Linked DNA regions of Homo sapiens. The protein of the gene in region 2 purifies or fractionates together with the protein of the main gene of each other region. This does not show direct contact. Each region holds a gene or a part of one and is shown on either strand. Other genes may lie near its edges.

Region 1 (3,500 bases), on a different chromosome or scaffold from region 2:
AGCGTGTAATCGGGAGGCTGAGGTGGGAGAATTGCTTGAACTTGGGAGTCGAAGGCTGCAGTAAGCTGAGATCACGCCACTTCACTCCAGCCTGGGTGACAGAGTGAGACCCTGTCTCAAAAAAAAAGAAAAGAAAAAAAAAGGCTGAATAGGGGTTTATCAAGCAAAAGGAAAGCCACACCCAGTTGAGTGAATAGCAGGTGGTGGCTGAGGTGGGAGGATCGCTTGAGCCTGGGAGTTCAAGGCTGCAATGAACTATGATCATGCCACTGAATTCCAGCCTGGGCAACAGAGCGAAGCTCTGTCTCAAAAAAAAAAAAAAAAAAGTGGGGGGTGGAGGTGATGGGAGAACAAAGAATGTCTGTGAAACTGCAAAAGCAGGAGCAAGAATGAGGAAGAGGCTGGGAAATTCAGTGGGGTTCGGCCGTGGAAGTGTGTCCTTTGTTCCCGACGTAGCTGCCACGTAGCAACTGCTTTGGGTGCTGTTTCAAACTAAAAAGCCCAATTCCACCTCTGATCATTGCTATACCTTTGAGATGGTATTTCTGGAGGAACCAGGGGAATCAGGTGAGAGGCAGGCTCTGTATTTATTTATACAACTATGCTCAGATCTCGCTAAGAAGAGCCTCATGTTCTATCTCTATCCTCCTGAGATGGAGATCAAAGATGGTGCTCAGACCCCATGGAAGAGGACTCAAGAGTGTGCAGGAGAAATCCAGCTCTTTCTGTAGGGGAAAAACCCTGGCTGCCAGGCACCAACGCTACTGTTAAATAAAGGGCAGATTCCCCATAACCTGACAGGCTCCTGCATCCCTCGGGAGAAGAAAAGAACAAAGTCCAGCAAGCCACCCTCCAGCTCAAGCCAACCACCTACCTTTTCAGATGCAGCCTCCAGAGATTTCAGATTGTTAGTAACATTCTTGAGTTCTTCTTCCAGGTCACCACATTTTCTGCACAAAGACAAAGGATTTTTGTGTCTTATCTTCCCTTACAGCCGGCAATAATAGCAATCGCCCCAACAATAAATTTTCCAAAGGAGAAACCTACACAGCTCCCCCGGTGGGGGGCAGAAGGAATGTGGGGAGAAAATGTTAATGGATTTTTCTGCAGTGTGATACTATGGGCTTATCAAAGGCTTATCATACCAGGCAGAGGCGAGGTGCGCCCGAAGAGTATTTGGAGGGCTTGGAAAACACTCCTGGTCTTTTGCCAAGGGTAAGGCTGCAAGGACTTGTGAAATCTATGATTGATGAGGCCGACTCCGGAAGGTGTAAGAATGGGACTGAGGGCAGAAGGCGGGCAGAGAGCAATGGGAGTTTGCAGGGGACACTCCGGGAAGGAAGCCCGGAGTGGATTTGTGAAACCAGATCTCTCTCAGCACTCCCGGATGCTCTGTGGGGCTGAATTCCTCACCCGGGGCCAAGAGGACAGGTGTTTTGTTTTTCGGTGCTTGCTTGTGGGATTCTGGTTAAGCTTCTCACCTTCCCGCCAGGAATGTGTCACGGCCAAACACTGACAGGAGCAAAAGCATTTACATACTGACCGGGGGAGCCTGCCTTCTGGAGCAGGTCAGTGTTCTGTTAAGATGGCACAGCCCCCTGAGATATCCTCTCTGGGAAAATGGGACTTCTGGGCTTCCCTGCTGCCTCCTGTCTCACTCCTATTTCCTCATATCTTTGCAGAAAGGGTCAACACGTGGGCAGTGCTTCCCATGGCAGTAAGAACAAGTCACCACCTCTTTGTCACAGAAGCCAAGAGAAAAGATGAGCCATGAGCCCCTGACGCCCGTCCACTTGAGCAGAGACCCCGGTCAGAGCCAATTCCCAACACAGCCAGCTCCTTCCCACTCCGCCCCAGGAATCGAGCCAGCCTCGCTCAGTCCTGTTCTGCCACTCACAGTTCAGACACCTCCGCACGCTCCTCTGCCCTCTCCAGCTCACCCTCCAGGATGACCAGCTTACGAGCTACCTGCAGAGACAGAAAGGCCCAGCTGAGCCCGATCCCCACCAGCCGTGTCCTCTCCCATCCACTGCAGACAGCCCCCAATGATGCCCCACCCAGACCCCTAGACCAGCTGCAACATGGGTTTTTCTGGTGTTTCTTTTTTTTGCAGGGGGACGGAGTCTCCCTCTGTTGCCCAGGCTGGAGTGCAGTGGCACAGTCTCGGCTCACTGCAACCTCCACCTCCTGGGTTCAAGCGATTCTCCTGCCTCAGCCTTCCAAGTAGCTGGGACTACAGGCGCGTGCCACCACGCCCAGCTAATTTTTGTATTTTCAGTCGAGATGGGGTTTCACCGTAGTGGCCAGGCTGGTCTCGAATTCCTGACCTCCTGATCCACCTACCTCGGCCTCCCAGAGTGCTGGGATTATAGGCATGAGCCACCACACCTGGCCTCTTTTTTATTTTTTTATTCTTTTGAGACAGAGTCTCGCTCCATCACCCAGGCTGAAATGCAGTGGCTCAACCTTGACTCACTGCAACCTCTGCCTCCTGGGTTCAAGTGAATCTCCTGTCTCAGCCTTCCAAATAGCTGGGCTTACAGGCATGCACGACCATGCCCGGCTAATTTTTGTATTTTTTGTAGAGACAGGGTTTCACCACGTTGGCCAGGCTGGTCATGAACTCCTGACCTCAGGTGATCTGCCTGCCTTGGCCTCCCAAAGTGCTGGGATTACCGGCGTGAGCCACCATGCCCAGCCCTTTTATGTTTTTGACAGAGGGTCTTGCTCTGTCTCCAAGGCTGGAGTGCAGTGGCGTGGTCAGAGCTCACTGCAGCCTTGACTTCCCAGGTTCAAGCGATCCTCCTGCCTCAGCCTCCCAAGTAGCTGGGACTACAGGTGCATGCCACCACACCCAGCTAATTATTATTATTATTATTTTTAGAAATGGGGTCTCACTATGTTGCCCAGGCTGGTCTCAAACTCCTGGCCTCAGGTGATCCTCCCGCCTCGGTCGAAGTGCTGGGGTTACAGGTACGAGCCACCGCGCCTGGCCTTTTGCTGGCGCTTCAACTGAAAGAGCCATCCTGGGGCCTGGAGGAAATCCTGATTCTCTTCCTCAAGCCTGAGGAGCGAGGCAGACAAGAGGCGGGAGGGAAGAGCCGAGCCATCGAGGGAGGCAAAGGAGGGCCTGAGCTTGCATGGTCTGAAACTCCATGGCTTGGGACCACAATCCTCCATTTTTGCCCAACTGTGCCAAAACTCCCAGCTAACGACACAAGTGAGCTGATCATTCGGTTTTCCCATTACGTTAGACAAGCGTCCGCAGCACTTTCTGGCATCGTGGGAGATAGTTTCCTAGCCAAGTGGTTGTCTCTGGACAAACATATGTTCACGCAGGAGGACAGCTGACCTAACCGAGAGCTTCCTTTCGTTGGCCCCGGTGTCCTCCCTATCTCAGCAGATGCATTTCCTCCCACTTCCTGCTGCTGCGCCATCTGCCAGCCCCACTCACCTCCTCGTATTTGCGGTCAGCCTCTTCCGCAATGTGCTTGGCCTCT
Region 2 (3,542 bases):
GCTCCACCCCAGGTTGCAGCTCAGCAGCAGGAGTCAGCTACGACCCAGAAGGCTGAACGGGAGGTGAGCCGCATGGTGGTTGTGATGGTAGGATCCTTCTGTGTCTGCTACGTGCCCTACGCGGCCTTCGCCATGTACATGGTCAACAACCGTAACCATGGGCTGGACTTACGGCTTGTCACCATTCCTTCATTCTTCTCCAAGAGTGCTTGCATCTACAATCCCATCATCTACTGCTTCATGAATAAGCAGGTAAAGCTCTTTATTCACATTCCTATGGTCCAGAAGACCCTGGTTCTTTTCTCACCATTGACTTTTAACTCAGAGCACCCTGGACTCTACCCAGGTTTCTAGTAGACGAGGGAAGCCACAAAACCCCCGAGTAGGTTGGGAAGCCTTTGGTAAGCACAGGGAGGAAGGCACGGTTATCAAGACGAGAAAATAGAACCCCGGAGGAAAGAACTTGAGTCAGGAAAATGAAGTTGCTCCAAAGAACAGGATGAATGAAAGCATTTTATTGAAAAACTCGTGCAGCAAACCACCATGGCACACGTTTACCTATGTAACAAACCTGCACATCCTGCACATGTATCCTGGAACTTAAATAAAATTAAAAAAATAAAAATAAAAACTCAGATTCCTCTCAATTTTCAGTCCTTGCATTTAATAATTTCTTAATCATTTCCCTTCCAACTTTTAGCCTGCACGAGCATGTGTGAAGCACAGAAATCATACCACATGCAAAAATCTCTAAAATATCTTATCATCTGAAGGTACTGGGGGATTTCCTATCCCATCTGAAATCCGAGCTAATAAACACCAAACCCTAAGTGGCAAAAACCCTACTTTCAGATGGTATTGTTTCCTCAATCCCAGAGGTAGACTCAAAACTAATTTGAAACCTCCCTGGATAGAAGAGAATTGGCAGTCCTTTCCAGCTGGGAGCACCTGCTAGTAATGGAGGGGCCTCTGCTGACAGTGCTTTTATGAAGCAGGATGGTTTGTGAATTTACCAACAGTGAGGTCTCAGACTTGACCAGTTTAGGATTACCGTAGACCCAGGAGTAGTTCTAGACTGGAATCTAGATAGTTTTCAGGATGGGGAAGATAGATTCAAAACCACCTAAGGGCATTCTGGGTACAAAGCATTGTGCAAGGCTTTGGTGATACAGAGAATAAGGTCTTTTTTCCCATACTTCCTCATCTGCCAAGGTTATCTCCAATTGTACCTTTCTCTCCAGTTCCAAGCTTGCATCATGAAGATGGTGTGTGGGAAGGCCATGACAGATGAATCCGACACATGCAGCTCCCAGAAAACAGAAGTTTCTACTGTCTCGTCTACCCAAGTTGGCCCCAACTGAGGACCCAATATTGGCCTGTTTGCAACAGCTAGAATTAAATTTTACTTTTAAGTAAGTTTCTATTGTCTCCGTCAGAAACCAAACTACTAAAAACACAAAAAAGATGGTAAAAGGAGTGATGGCAGTTTGGGGAGTCAATTTTTCATTTTCTTACTATTGCCTTCTTGCCTACAAAGCTACTGTTTCCACTGGTCTATTTCAGACCACCCAAAGGCCATTTCAACAATCATCAGTTTCTACTCCTAAGTGGCACCATTCACAGCACTTGGAGAACTGATTTCTACATACAAGGCAACCAAAAAGGAATATGCTTTAAGTTTTCAGTGTATGGATACTTTCCTTTTTAGTAACTTTTTTTTTTTTTCCTGCTGGGGATCCATTCTGAGATGATATATGCTGAATTAGAACAAACTTAAGAAAACACTTTAGAAATGGGAGAGACATAAAGAAAAAACAAAACAAAACAAAAAAAAAAACAAAAAAAACTCAGTGGCCCCAAATATGAGTTTGAAAGAACTTTTGGATAACTGCTACAGCTTTGGCAGGAACAGCCATGTCCACAAGCCCCTGAGCAAGCACAAATTATTCCAGGTGCTTCCTCCCCGTTGCATTTGGCTAAACCTTTATATTTGTCTTAAACTGTGTGTTTACTAAAGTTAATAGTTTAATTCTCTCGAGGTTCTCAAAATGAATTTGCATGTTTTAATAACATTTGTAAACAATACCAAAATGTTAAACAAAATTGTTTTACCTTATGCTCTATAGATAAACGTGTGTGTACATTCAGAATCGCTTGTGTTTGGTATCAGATAATTATATAACGAGCAGCAGGTCTCTCCAGTTATACGGCCTAATGGAAGTAAAAAAGGGTTATGGCTGTGGTGAGAAGGATGCTAGAAAATACCAGAAAACAGGGAGAAAAGAATAATCATTTAGGAGAAGGCAGTGCTGTCTCTGAGTTTGGGAGAACTTCGAGGAGAGTTCCCATTCTGACATTTTAGAGCATCCATAATTCTAAGCTAGAGTTCTATTTCTTGGAAAATGAAGGTCATACATACCCCATAATGAATGTAAACAGTTTTATTTAGAAACAGATAGGTACCTGTTCGCATTGCAGAATATAAAACTTGGTTTACACTCTATAAAAAATAACCAATATCCAAATTCAAGAGAGCTAGCATTCACAGAACACACAATATGGGTGTGTAGCTACTGTTCACCAGCCTCAGGCTTGATTTAAACAAACAAACAAAAAAAAAATTTCAAAGGGATCATTCAAGATGACCGTATAATGCTTGCTGCTGTCTTTGCAGATTAAGGTTTGCTTTTCAAGTGCATGATTTTAACATAAGGCCTGGGCTCTCTGCACCTAGTGAGGTGTGAGGCTCTCTTGCCACACAGTTCACACTCTCACTTAACTAAGCCAGAGTTGGTGGCATTATTAAATTATCACTGGTCTTCTTAATAGTAAAAATGGGGAACCCAGAGGGCAGGAAATTTCCATTACCCTATATTGGGGCTAAACTTAAAAGAGTATATCCACTATCAAGAGCTTAGTACAAAGGCTGGGGTGAAGTTACATTATACCTGGCTTTTTACCATACCAGGGAGCCCACCTCAACATGACTGTGGAAGACCAAAGGATATACCTAGGTTCAGATTATAATAAATCACCCAGCACCACCTGAATGTATTATCCACAAAGATATAGCAATAATAAAGGTTATATATACATATATTTATCTTGGTAACCTGAGGGCTAAAAACGTGGAATACGATAATTCTTCTCAAGAGGTCCATCTGTAAGAAAGGGACCCAAAAGGACAGTGTTTGTGTTGCATAAAATATGGGTAAAGTGGAGTTGGGAACAAAGGGTGGTTTCTTTAGCTCTTTCCACATCTCTCTTTGATAAGGACTGAAACCCTGTTGATTCATGATAAACGTTTCCTTTTTTTTTTTTTTTGGCAGCGGGGAGAGGGAAAGAGGAGGAAATGGGGTGTGATGGGTCAAAGGCAGGAAAGGTAAGCCATGGTCCTCAAACCAAAGAGCCCTCTCTGTAGGTCCTCTGATCTTTGAGTGTGAGCTCAAGCTCTCCAGTGGACACAGAAAAAGGCCTGGTAGTAAGTGGTTTGCATTGTGAGGTATGAGGATCCCTGGTAAATTCAGCAGCATGTGGTTTTT
Region 3 (2,398 bases), on a different chromosome or scaffold from region 2:
ACACTGGCCTGGGTCCGCATTCCCTATTTCAGGCTGTTGTCTCGGGTCAGATCTCCGGAAGCGGCAGGAGCGCTGGGTCTCCTGGTCGTGGCCGGGCAGCGTCTTTCTTCTTCAGGGTCTGGATGCCACTTCCCGCCTCCTCCCTGTGCCCAGTGGAAGGAGAAACATCCTAGAGGGTGGAGACTGCCCTGTTTTTCTTTTGCCATTGAGTCCCAGTGTGACTCAAGCACGAGGCCACCTTTCTCTGCCAGAGGACAGAAAGCTTCAGTGACTGGCCCAGGGTCACACAGTTCTGCCGCCCAGCCCAGCAGCCTGAGCCAGCAGTCAGGATGGGGTGGGGACACTCCGTCTCTCTTGAGACCCCACTCAGAGAATGGGGCTGACACTGTAGGAGAAATATAAGCAGGACTCCTGCTGGCTGCTCCCCTCCTGCATGAGGCATGTTAGAGGGACTGGGACCGCCAGCCCCCAGCTCCCATGCCGGGCCTCGGCCCAGTCTCAGCTCCTGTTTGGGAGGGGGGGCAGAGGGGCAGGGGGGCAGAAGTTGAGTCTGGGAGCTGGGGCAGGGCACAGGCTCTAGGGTCCAGCTGTCCTCCTCTCCCCTCCCCTGCTGGCCACTCCTGCTGCCGTCTCCACAGCTCTGGAATGATGAAGTGGACAAGGTAAGTTGGGGCCTGGGGGGCTGGGCTCGAGGAAGAAGGGGTGGCGGGGTGCAGGCACACTTGCTGCTGTGGGGTCTGATCTGTTTCTCACTCTGCCCCACACCCACTGGGGAGGGGTTACTGCTTTCCCTCCCTGGGCCTCAGTTTCCCCTCTGTGGGGAAATGTTTTCTCCACAGTACCCTGTAGCACACAGTAGGCCCTCAGGATGCACTTGCTGGGTGGATTTCTCCGATGGGTGATGGAGGAAGGGTCTGTCACTGCAGCTGCCTGTGGGGTCCTGAGTGGGGCTCTAGCTTCTCTGGGGTTGGGGCTCCAGGTGTGAAGTCAGGCATAGACCCAGAAGGCTCTCTGTGTTCCCAGGGGAAAGGGACAGGCGGCTCCCAGGTAGGCTCCAGGAGAAGACTGCGGGGAAGCTGGTGGGTGGTGTGTGGGTGCTCATGGCTGCCCTGCCCTGCCCAGGCCGAGCAGGAGCTCCGCGTGGCCCAGACAGAGTTTGACCGGCAAGCAGAAGTGACCCGTCTCTTGCTGGAGGGAATCAGTAGCACTCACGTGAGTCCCACTGCCCACCCTCACTAAACCTAACCCTCAGCAGGCACCAGGTGTGCCTGAACCACAAGGTCAGCAGGGCTGCCCCAGAATGGCCCTCACAGAGCAAGTCCCACCGGGGAGGGTGTGGGCGCAGGGGCAGGGCACCCTGGAATGCCGGAGCAAGGTCTGGTAGAGGACGGGGATGGGGACGGAATTTTTTGTTCTGAGGGCGGGAGGTTAGAAGTCAGCCTCTGGCCTCTTCCCCGCAGGTGAACCACCTGCGCTGCCTCCACGAGTTCGTCAAGTCTCAGACAACCTACTACGCACAGTGCTACCGCCACATGCTGGACTTGCAGAAGCAGCTGGGCAGGTGCGGGGCCAGCACTGCTGAACCCACTGGGGCCCCCTGGCTCCCATACCCTGTCCGTGGGCAGCATGAGCTCCTCTGGGCAAGTCCTGTGACACAAAGCTGGGTTGGAGGGCTCTGCTGGAACCCACTCTGGGTGCGGGCATCTCATGTGTATGAGGGTGGAGTGGCTGGCCTTACTGACGGCCAAGTCCCCTGGAGCCCCTGAGGGTTTCTAGGGAATGCCTGGGTGGGGAGGATGGCAGGGACCAGGGGGTGGGGCCATCTCACCCTTCCCTTGCTTTGCTTTTCCCTTTGTGCTGCCAGCTCCCAGGGTGCCATGTGAGTAGCCGGGGCTGGAGTGGGGCTCCTGGGGCTGGGGAGGGGAGTTTGCCTCTGGGGTCCCTTCTGGGACTCCCACCTGCTAAGATGTATCCCTCCTCTCCAGATTTCCCGGCACCTTCGTGGGCACCACAGAGCCCGCCTCCCCACCCCTGAGCAGCACCTCACCCACCACTGCTGCGGCCACTATGCCTGTGGTGCCCTCTGTGGCCAGCCTGGCCCCTCCGGGGGAGGCCTCGCTCTGCCTGGAAGAGGTGGCCCCCCCTGCCAGTGGGACCCGCAAAGCTCGGGTGCTCTATGACTACGAGGCAGCCGACAGCAGTGAGCTGGCCCTGCTGGCTGATGAGGTGGGCCCGGTGCCGCAAGGTGGGGCAGGAATGGGCTGGGTGAGGAGCAGCCTGGGCACTGGGATCAGGCACATGGGGCCTGGAGGGGCCCTGTTGGCAAAGTGGGGACCAGCAGGTTAAAGAGGGCATATCCAGCTCTGAGGAAAGGATCCTTGCTCTGCTGGGTCTCTGG
Region 4 (3,500 bases), on a different chromosome or scaffold from region 2:
GGCGGAGGTTGCAGTGAACGGAGATCGCGCCACTGCACTCCAGCCTGGGTGACAGAGCAAGACTCTGTCTCCAAAAAAAAAAAAAAAATCTTCACATAGAGCTAATCAACACATGCCGTTTTTGAATAAAATAGAGAACTAACTGAAAATGATGCCACTGATAAACAGAAATGTACTCTCTTGGAATATTATTATTTCATGAAGAGAGCAATTTGTTTCCTGTGAATTTTAATTGTGCTTTTAAGTTTCCTCCACTCGGTGTCGTTTTGGATACCTGCATAGCTGAATTTTATTTAATGTATTGTGTATTGCAAGAAAGGAAAATAAAAGTGATCCAGGGGATCAAAATACATATTTTTTAATTTTTTTCCATCTAGCCTTTTTAGGCTTATTCAGTTTCCCCACCTCCAGTTTCTTAAATTGAATGCTTACCTTACTTTCTAGATTTTTTTTAAAAAAATTAATGAATGCATTCAAGGCTATATGTTTATCTCTAATTACCTTTTTTTCCTGTATCTCTCTTATTCTGTTATCCAAGTCTTTACTGCTCCTCCATATTATTTTTCTGTTCTATTTGTGTCTGCATCCTGAGTCAGATTGTCTTCTAAGTCATCAGTTACTTCTTGGGACTCCAGATAATCTGGAGTTTGTCTCTTCTATTGAACTTTTTATGTCTTCATTTCCTAGTTTTCACAGATTCTTTTTCACTGATTCTGTTCTTTTTCACTGATTCTTGTTTTACTTTTTAGTAAAGCCTGCTTTTATATCACAACTTTCTGTCTTGTTCTTATACTTCTTATTCCCTTATGACCTCTCTGAAATATTTCAGCCAAATTTATTTTAAAGTCATTTTGATTGCCCTATTTTTAATTTGTATCAAGTGAATTTATTTCTTGGTTATTGATTTCAGTTTTAAAAATCAGTTCTGTCTTTTTGTAGTTTCCCTCATTCTACAGCATTAAAAAAGACTATAGAAAAGATGCTTTTCATCTCTTTTTAAAATTTTTTGTTTTATTAAAAACAATATATTTTCATTATATAACTTTAGAAAATGCAGAAAACTGTGGGTAAGAATTAAACGTGTGTGTGTATACCTTTTTAAAAAAGTTGGTCGTAATGTATATATTGTTTTCTTTGATTTTGTTTAATGTATAACCGTTTCCCCTTATCATTAAATATTTTTGGATATATAAGTTTTTCTGGCTGCTTAATATTCCTTGCCCATGTTATAGATTAACCGTAATTGTTTAGTTTCCTTTCACTGACATTCAGGAGGTTTCTAACTTTTCACTGTTAAAAATAACACTGCATTGCATATACTCTTGTGCACATTTTTGTGTGCATTTCTGATTTATTTACAGAAATTTAAGGAAATACTGAGTCAAAGGGTGTCTAAATAGAGATTTTGAAGCTCTTAAAACATATATATGTGTTGCCTTCTGGAAAAATTGTACCATGACCACCAGTAGTATATGAAACACCCCATTTCTTTAGACCTTTACTAGCATTGCTGAATATTTAATTGATATTAAATGGTATTTAAATGATATTTACAATTAAATGACATTTATTTGTCTAAAGTTTTATTTATATTATTTTATGGTTTAACTTTAATCATATTGATTATTTGAGTTTTTTAACTTTTTTGTGCTTGTAAATTATCTATTCATGTCAAAAGTTGTTTTTCAGAGGCACCAAATAATGTCATCTGAAATGTTGCCAGCATTTATTGAAACTTCTAATGTTGACAAAAAGCAAGGCATAAATGAAGATCAAGAGGAGAGCCAGAAGCCAAGATTAGGTGAAGGGTGTGAACCAATATCTAAACGACAAATGAAAAAACTAATAAAACAGAAACAATGGGAAGAGCAACGGGAACTCCGCAAGTATGTGTTTCAAAATGTATATGCTCTCTTCCTATTTAGAGATATGCAATGTTAAACCTTGCATAGCCCTTTGGCATATTAAATGTAATTGTGTTACTTAAAATTCAATTACTAATTTTAGACAAAAGCGTAAAGAAAAACGCAAGAGAAGAAAATTGAAGCTAACAACGTATATTGTTAGCTAACACTGTCAACTGGCTGTTAAAACTATTTTTTAAAATTGTTTGGGTTTCTTTTAGCACTGTTGATGATCTTGCACTCAACACTTTTTCTAATGCAGAACCTTATTATGAGTAGCAGCACAATTTTTGAAACAACTGACTTAGATAAGGGATGTAATTAGTGTCTGTGTGCTAGTTATGGAATAAAAACAGCCAACTCAGAAAGATCAAGTTTTGGCCTGACATTGATTTTGCCACAAGAACTGTTGCAGGTTTTGGTGAAAGCAGTTTGGCTAAATTTGTCGTTGTAATAAATGCCAAAATTTATGGAGAGAAAATAAACTGTAGTTGGTGTAAATTAGAGAAAAAGTATGTAATTTTTTTAATGAACAATTTTATTTTGCTTTTTTCTATACCTTATAAATGTGGCTTAAAAATCATATAGGTAAATTATGAAAATAAAATTCGTCATAACTCAAACTCAGTATTTATAAGGTTAGGGATAGTATGATACCAATAACAAATGAAACTATTCAGATAGTATAGTTAGGATTTAGATAGAAAGCTTTAGATCATTTTTGGAAGCTCATTTCCTTCCTATCTGAAGCTTTTAGATGGGTTGTATAAAACTGCTAATACTTGACCATTTTTGAATGGTCACAGAAGTGACAATTTCATATGATTTAACCTGATGATTTTTAAAAGGAATTGTTTATTTAGAAGAGTCTTGTAAATAACTGAATACACAATAACAAAATGTTATTTCAATTACTAATTTTAGACAAAAGCGAAAAGAAAAACGCAAGAGGAAAAAATTAGAGCGACAATGTCAAATGGAACCAAACTCAGATGGACATGACAGAAAACGTGTTCGAAGAGATGTTGTTCATAGCACCCTTCGCCTTATTATTGACTGTAGTTTTGATCACTTGATGGTATTAAAGGTATCATGAATCATTGTCAGAAAAATCTTGTATGTGAATTAGGTCGAATCATTTTTGTTTTAATATGCAATATCCCTTTTATGTAAATTTGTGTATTGAAATGAATCTTCAGTTTTTCAAACTTTCCCCTAAGTTAAATTAGCTAGCAAATTGCATTGATATAATAAATATGTGTATTTATATATGTGTGTATGTGTGTGTGTCAGTATGTGTGCAGACAGGAAAGAGAGACAAACACACACTTTGTAGTCTAGATGACAGAACTAAATTAACTACTTATTGATCATAAAGATCTGTGGGGTTTTACCAGTGTTGTTGGTAAAACATGAAAATAGTAATAGTATGGCTCTAAAAGTCTTGTTGTTGTCTCTTTAGAGAGTAGCCGTTTTCATGAACTAGCATTTTAAATAAATACAAAATATGAAATAATGGGTCACTTACAGAGCATTAACTTACAGTAATTTTGCTAGTATGTAAGGAAATCAAATAACATTTATCAGAATGCATTT

The links. Proteins that work in one complex are often made in the same cells at the same time.
Region 1: the proteins of CALU (region 2) and TPM4 fractionate together in Homo sapiens (co-fractionation; one large-scale study listed by BioGRID). This does not show direct contact.
Region 3: the proteins of CALU (region 2) and SH3GLB2 fractionate together in Homo sapiens (co-fractionation; one large-scale study listed by BioGRID). This does not show direct contact.
Region 4: the proteins of CALU (region 2) and TRMT10A fractionate together in Homo sapiens (co-fractionation; one large-scale study listed by BioGRID). This does not show direct contact.

Annotation. Positions count from the first base shown.
Region 1 is NC_000019.10:16,086,495-16,089,994, reverse strand, and holds part of TPM4 (tropomyosin alpha-4 chain), read right to left. Parts: coding exon 3,455-3,500; intron 1,969-3,454; coding exon 1,898-1,968; intron 951-1,897; coding exon 875-950; intron 1-874. UniProt on the Homo sapiens protein: Binds to actin filaments in muscle and non-muscle cells. Plays a central role, in association with the troponin complex, in the calcium dependent regulation of vertebrate striated muscle contraction.
Region 2 is NC_000007.14:128,770,359-128,773,900, reverse strand, and holds the end of CALU (calumenin isoform a precursor), read right to left. Parts: 3' UTR 1,362-3,542; coding exon of another isoform or gene 1,242-1,361; 3' UTR 501-1,241; downstream 1-500. Other genes in the region: OPN1SW (short-wave-sensitive opsin 1), read left to right, coding at 13-252, 1,242-1,361. UniProt on the Homo sapiens protein: Involved in regulation of vitamin K-dependent carboxylation of multiple N-terminal glutamate residues. Seems to inhibit gamma-carboxylase GGCX. Binds 7 calcium ions with a low affinity.
Region 3 is NC_000009.12:129,008,934-129,011,331, reverse strand, and holds part of SH3GLB2 (endophilin-B2), read left to right. Parts: intron 1-566; coding exon of another isoform or gene 567-638; coding exon 639-662; intron 663-1,122; coding exon 1,123-1,212; intron 1,213-1,460; coding exon 1,461-1,561; intron 1,562-1,864; coding exon of another isoform or gene 1,865-1,879; intron 1,880-1,985; coding exon 1,986-2,226; intron 2,227-2,398.
Region 4 is NC_000004.12:99,557,540-99,561,039, reverse strand, and holds part of TRMT10A (tRNA methyltransferase 10 homolog A), read left to right. Parts: intron 1-1,678; 5' UTR 1,679-1,701; coding exon 1,702-1,886; intron 1,887-2,828; coding exon 2,829-2,991; intron 2,992-3,500. UniProt on the Homo sapiens protein: S-adenosyl-L-methionine-dependent guanine N(1)-methyltransferase that catalyzes the formation of N(1)-methylguanine at position 9 (m1G9) in tRNAs. Probably not able to catalyze formation of N(1)-methyladenine at position 9 (m1A9) in tRNAs.